Homo sapiens: one gene and its partner. The protein of the gene in region 2 purifies or fractionates together with the protein of the main gene of each other region. This does not show direct contact. Each region holds a gene or a part of one and is shown on either strand. Other genes may lie near its edges.

What was found.
Region 1: the proteins of LOXL3 (region 2) and POTEE purify together in Homo sapiens (affinity purification with mass spectrometry; one large-scale study listed by BioGRID and IntAct). This does not show direct contact.

What each region holds. Positions count from the first base shown.
Region 1 is NC_000002.12:131,229,831-131,233,662, reverse strand, and holds part of POTEE (POTE ankyrin domain family member E), read right to left. Parts: intron 2,828-3,832; coding exon 2,757-2,827; intron 1-2,756.
Region 2 is NC_000002.12:74,531,711-74,534,635, forward strand, and holds the end of LOXL3 (lysyl oxidase homolog 3 isoform 1 precursor), read right to left. Parts: coding exon 2,821-2,925; intron 2,722-2,820; coding exon 2,606-2,721; intron 2,527-2,605; coding exon 2,390-2,526; intron 2,284-2,389; coding exon 2,172-2,283; intron 1,970-2,171; coding exon 1,896-1,969; 3' UTR 1,276-1,895; coding exon of another isoform or gene 1,110-1,275; 3' UTR 1,005-1,109; coding exon of another isoform or gene 909-1,004; 3' UTR 548-908; downstream 1-547. Other genes in the region: HTRA2 (serine protease HTRA2, mitochondrial isoform 1 preproprotein), read left to right, coding at 146-215, 909-1,004, 1,110-1,275. UniProt on the Homo sapiens protein: Protein-lysine 6-oxidase that mediates the oxidation of peptidyl lysine residues to allysine in target proteins.

The DNA of each region.
Region 1 (3,832 bases), about 57 Mb from region 2:
TTCTTACATGAAAAAAATTAAGCAAAACAAATGAAAAAAGCATAACACCAAAAAAAAAAGGCCAACATATTAAAACAAGTAGTTGAGATTCCTAACTTTATGTATTTCACTAAGGACGGGTGAAAACCTTGTAATACATTGATGCTACTCCAAGGATGTATGACAAGGAAACTATAACTGACTACTGCGAAAACTTCCTTTGTCTCCTGGTTTCTTTACAGGGTAAAGAACCTTCCATCAATCCCAGCAAACTATAGGCCACAGGCCAAATCCAATCTGCATTATGGTTTTGTAAATAAAGTTTTATAGGAGCTCAGTCATGCCTGTTTGCTTACATATAATCATGGTGGCTTTCACACTACAACAGCAGACAACAGCAGGGTTAAGTAGATATGACAGAGACCACATAGTCTAAAATATTGCCCAACTGGCCATTTACAGAAAAAGCTTGCTAACCCGTTTTACACCATAACCAGAATGCCTTAATACTCAGATTTAATCTTATGACTCCCCTGCTCAAATTTCTCCAATGAGCCCCTGCAGCACACATTGTTGGCTCCCTATCAATAGCCATTCCTTATTCTTTCTTGAAGAAGAAATCCAAGTCTATTGGGATATTTATTATCCCAATCCCCCTCCTCAGCCTCAGAAACAGAAATGATTATTCTAAGCTAATCAGGTATTTACCTTCCCAGTGCCTGGTTTGGGAATGAGCATGTGGTGTGACCCAGCCAGTGAAATGTTACAGGAAGCCCTTTGCATGCTTCTAAGTTTTCTCCCTGTTTAAAAGACACATGTGAAGAAAAGCAGCCCTTGCGATGTTGTGTTGTGAGAACAAGATGTTTGGAGCTGCTGCGGATTAGCCAACCATGAAGGGAGACGTGAATAAAACACTGTCAACAGCACAGCTGAAAGAGGGAAAAGTGGGATCCTAGGATATCAATGAACAACCAAAACAACTCTGGTTCCTACTGTTTTAGCCACTGTTCATCTAGTATTTGCAGTCCAAAGCATTCTACCCGGTAAATTTCCCATGGCACACAGGATAAGACCTACTCATTTCTATAGTATTAAAAAGTCTATCATAAACTTGCCTTAGCTAAGTATTCACCTCATTCCCAACCTCTCGTATCACACACTTTTGGTACTAGCAAAAGTGAACTGCTCAGAAACCCTGCCATGTTCACTCAAGCATCTTGTCTTTTGCACTTGCTGCTCTTCCTCCCAAACAGGCAATCTCATTAGATGTTCCTTCTGGCAAACACACGACCTCGCTGCATGTTCCTTCTGCCAAACATTCTTCTTCTGCTTCTTTACCTAGAAAAATTCTTCTCTCTCTGCATGCTTACCTTAAATCATACCTACTTTTTCCCAAAACTTTCATTCCTCATCACATATGTCTGGCACATAATCAATATATAATAAATCATAATTATAAGCTTCCAGTGGGCATCTAGCACACAGTAAGCACTGAATAAAGTAGTAAAATAATGAAAATGACAATGATAACAAAAAGCTCCTGTCTGTATTTTTAATTGTTTGTGGTCTATAGCATTAGAAAAATGGTTACTATCTAAAAGACATTTGATAGTTATATGTTAAGTGGACAAGTGAAAACATAAATAGAAATGTTTTCTTTGTAAATTCTGTTGAAAAACCACAGAAATGAAATGGAGACAGCTCTATTATGAGCACCTTAAAGATCAAAACTACATCTATTCCATCTTTGTCTCCTGCAACTTATAAAACCTAACTTACAAAAGCTCTTTGATAAATAGATGGCTAAATTAAAGGTGTCCTCATACAGTTTGGACTATAAATGTATTAGGTGTCCACAACCAGGTAGCATACTAGCGTTTTTGTTAGTGTGAAACGTTTTTCTGCTTTTATTATAATCTGCTGAGCCTAGAGTTGGGCAATTTGTATATTTATTATGACAATCTTTTGGCAAATGGTAGCAGAGCATCTTGTTCTAACAAAATTACTGTTATGATGACAATTAACCAGCAGGTAGAAGAACACATCTTGTTCCAACAAAGTAAATATATCTCTTTCCAACTTCAAATGAGGAGGAATGAAGTCAGTAATAGTGAGACCTTATTGGGACAAGCATATGTAACATGACTTGTGCTTCAGTGTTCTTTTGTGATCAAAAATTCCTTACTTTTACTTTTTTATCTATGGTAGGACCACGCAAAGCAGGGGTCCTCAACTCCCAGGCCACAGACTCATACCAGTCCATGGACTATTATGAACCACACCACACAGGAGGAGGTGAGCAGCAGGCAAGCCAGGGAAGCTTCATCTGTATTTACAGCCACTCCTTATGGCTCATATTACCGCCTGTACTCTGCCTCCAGTCAGATCAGTGATAGCACTAGATACTCATTGGAGCATGAACCCTGTTGTGAACTGCCCATCTGAGGGATCTAGGTTGTGTGCTTCGTATGAGAATCTAATGCCTGATGATCTGTCACTGTCTCACTTTGCCCCCAGATGAGACCATCCAGTTGCAGAAAAATAAGTTCAGAGCTTCCACGGATTCTACATTATGGTAAGTTGTATAATTATTTCATTATATATTACAATGTGATAATAATATAAAGTAGCACAATAAATGTAACATGATTGAATAATCCTGAAACCATCCCCACCCTCCCCCAGCCCATGGAAAAATTGTCTTCCACAAAACCGGTCCCTGGTGTCAAAAAGGTTGGGGACAACTGACTAAAGTAATTCACTATCACAAGTCTTACCTGGATTGCTGTTTTCAGAAGAGATTTTTAGCATCTGTTTTTCTTTGTAGTCAGAAAGTAACTGGCAAATTCTATGTATAAAAATGTAATAAACCAAATTACTATTTTAATACTGATATAAAAAAAACTTACCAAATGTAGAATTATTAAGAGTATTTCAAACAATATCAGAATAACAGAACTTAATAGTATTATCCCATCCACTTATGAATACATTCTACAAACTTCTCTTTAAGCTTCTAATTAAAGAAGAAAAAAATGTAAGGTGAAATAGTCATAAATCGAGGGCACTGTGACCCAGTAAATTAGCTAGCATTAGCATGACATAATAGAAAGTGTCCCAACTCTAAATAAGTCCTAGCTCCATAATGAACAGCTATTTGTTCTTGGACAACTTGCTTCTCTTAGGCTCAATGTCTTCTTCAACAAAGTGAGGACTTTGCTGCCTTATTTCACTAGGTTGTTATAAAGGTTTAACGAGATAACATTTTTTAAATGCTCAGAGAAATAGTAAAGCAATGGAATAATCTGTTCCTAAACTTTATGACTAAAATTATCTTGGAATCCCAAATAAAACCCAATGCATATTTTGTTCATAGGTTCTAATATACAAATGTTGTAGTTTTCAGAAAATGTTATTAAGTCCTAATTTTGCTTCTTAGTTGTCCTACTCTTTATGGCTTATAATTCAGGGCATCTCAACTATGTCATAGTTTGTAACTAAATTTATTCATAAATATCTCATTAAAGTAGATAATGTGATTGTCCACTATTACGGAGTTGATCAATCACACCAAGGGCAGAAAAACCAATGGATGTTAAGACCTGACTTGGACCAACGATCCTTCTCTACAGACTCAAACTCTCAGCCAGTAGATGTCTGTTAGGATAATGCTTTATATTGATGTTCAATTCCAGCTGACATGGGAGACCAAAAGTCTACTTTTATTTTTTTTTAGTTTCCACAGAGAAGTAGCAAGCTGACATTCTGTAATTTTCGACATACATACTAACAATATATTTTGCACCGAACATGTTATTCAGGTCTAAGTCATCTCATAGACCATCTTACATGA
Region 2 (2,925 bases):
GCCTTATGGGGAAACGGGTTCCTTTAATGTGGTGGAAATAGGGGAAGGGCATTCAGTGGGACTTCCTGGAGGGTGGTCTACTGGGAGAAGAGGGCAGGGAAGGAAGGATGTAGCTGGGTGGGGCTCATTTGTCCCTCTGTCACAGATTCCTCCTCCGGAATCAGTGGGTCCCAGCGGCGCTACATTGGGGTGATGATGCTGACCCTGAGTCCCAGGTATGAGCTTTAGGGACAGTGACATGTAATGTGACCAGTGTAATCAGAGGGGGGCACCTCTATTGAGCTTTGTTCTCATTTCTGTCTTTATCTAAGATGAACTGTGTCACACTTGAAATAATCACAAGAGCTGTCTCCCTTCATCATCTTGACTTTCTTATCCCACTCCACTTTGTACACCTGTCACCAGATTGATTTCATCCTGTTACTGCTTTGATTTCAAGCCTTCAATCCATTAACTTGGCATTTAAGGGCCATTTTCCATCTGTCTGTAAATCAACTTTCTAGACCTGGCTGTAATACCTTCCTATATGAATACTCAGCCAACCTGATTTCCTACTCCCATGTTTTTTATTTATGCTGTTCTTGTTTTATATGGTTAATATCAGATCCATCCTTTTAGGCTCAACTTAAGTTCTTTCCCCTTAAAGCTTCTCTTAGTATTCTAGAATGACATTAGTGCTATTGATTTAACACTGTTTGTCATTTGGTGCCCTCATGTGGTGTACATCTTTTATGTACATGTTGCACTTTATTGCTAGAAGACAGAAAGTGAGTTGCCATTGTATTTTGTAGTACCTAGCCCATGTCCTGTCCATATATTTATCAATGTGTTGATGAGAGACTTGAGGTGGAACTCAGGATGGGGAGAATGCCTGGGTTTGGCTAATAGGGTGATCTGTGTACTTTCAGCATCCTTGCTGAACTACAGCTTCGAGAACCAAGCTTTCCCGATGTTCAGCATGGTGTACTCATCCATAAAGTCATCCTGGGCTCCCCTGCACACCGGTGAGGGAGAGGCTGCAGTGTGATATGGGGATGGGCAAGGTGTGCATGTGTCCTTGAACTAGGCTTTGTACTCCTTCCTTTCTCTCTGTCCATTTTTCTCTATAGGGCTGGTCTGCGGCCTGGTGATGTGATTTTGGCCATTGGGGAGCAGATGGTACAAAATGCTGAAGATGTTTATGAAGCTGTTCGAACCCAATCCCAGTTGGCAGTGCAGATCCGGCGGGGACGAGAAACACTGACCTTATATGTGACCCCTGAGGTCACAGAATGAATAGATCACCAAGAGTATGAGGCTCCTGCTCTGATTTCCTCCTTGCCTTTCTGGCTGAGGTTCTGAGGGCACCGAGACAGAGGGTTAAATGAACCAGTGGGGGCAGGTCCCTCCAACCACCAGCACTGACTCCTGGGCTCTGAAGAATCACAGAAACACTTTTTATATAAAATAAAATTATACCTAGCAACATATTATAGTAAAAAATGAGGTGGGAGGGCTGGATCTTTTCCCCCACCAAAAGGCTAGAGGTAAAGCTGTATCCCCCTAAACTTAGGGGAGATACTGGAGCTGACCATCCTGACCTCCTATTAAAGAAAATGAGCTGCTGCCATCTTTTGTGGGCAGTTAGTCAGGTGCTGCTCTTTGTGGTGTGGTGGGCTCTGGTCTGTTCTGCTCGGTGCTGGGCCTGGGAGCAAAGATTCCCATGCTTGGCTACAGATACTGACAGCTGGCCTCTGAAGGAGGGTGAAAACTTCTGCTTGACAGTTCCACATCCATAGTGCATGGTCTGATGAGTGCGGTTGCTGACATGGGTTTCTTGGTAAGCTCCTGAGGTAATGGCAGCCTCAGACCCCTGCCATTAGGGGCCAGTGGTGGTTTGCAGAGGGCAGTGGCACTTAGATAATCTGGTTGCTGGTCTGGCCAGGGTAGCGTTCAAACCTCCTGTTGGCCTCTTCACTGAAGGCATCACCTGCAGAGTGGACAGGCAATTTGGGAGGCGCCCTGCACAGAGGGAGGGAGATAGATGCACTGTGGAGAAGGGTGGGTAGAAGTGGAGGGACTGAGAGCTCTACAGGAAGGTGGGAAGATGGAGAAACAAGCTATGGAAAAGAGAATGAACGTCTTTCCCTCCCATCCCCTAATCTTCCTGGGTTGCTCTTCCCATCAAATACCAATGTGGCAGTTGTGCACCCAGATTCTATGTCCATCATATTTGCAGTTACATTTCATTGCATTGTTGGTAAAGTCACTCTCTGCTACTTCAAAGTTTGGGTTGATGACAACCTGTGAGTGAGAAAAAGGCCACTTAACCCAGCGACAATCCTCGAATTCAAAGGTGTCTTTAACGCTCCCCCCACTCACCCATCTGGAAGCCCCAGACTCCAGGTACCTGGAGAATGTAGTTTCCTGGCTTCACATCCGTGATGTCAATCCACTGACAGTCAATGTCATGCCGGTAGAGATCCCAGCAACCCACAGTGATGCCTTGCTCTCCAAAGTTGGCACACTCATACCGCTTGGAGACATCTGGAGGGATTGGCATATGTCAGTGTAAGGAAAGGCTGTGCAATGGATACCATGTGGTTCACTTCAGTCCCCAACTCACCCTCCTGACACTCAGTGTCTTCGAGACAGAAACTAGCTTTGTGGCCCTCAGCCACCTTGGTGCCATTTGGGGTGAGGATATCATAGTGAGTGAAGATGTCCATGCTGTGGTAATGCCTGTGGGGAGAAGGGAACTTCTGTTTCCTTCTCTGCCCCCAGAAGGTTTGCCCCATCCCCCGTGGTCTTGCCCTTCTACTTGACTCCCTACCCTCTCACCCATGGCACTCGTGCCACACCCAGGAGTGGCGCCCAGCCTTGGGCCTGAAGTCAGCTCGTCCCAGGTTGTGGATCTGGGAGGAGAATCGGAGCAGACGCCGGTGA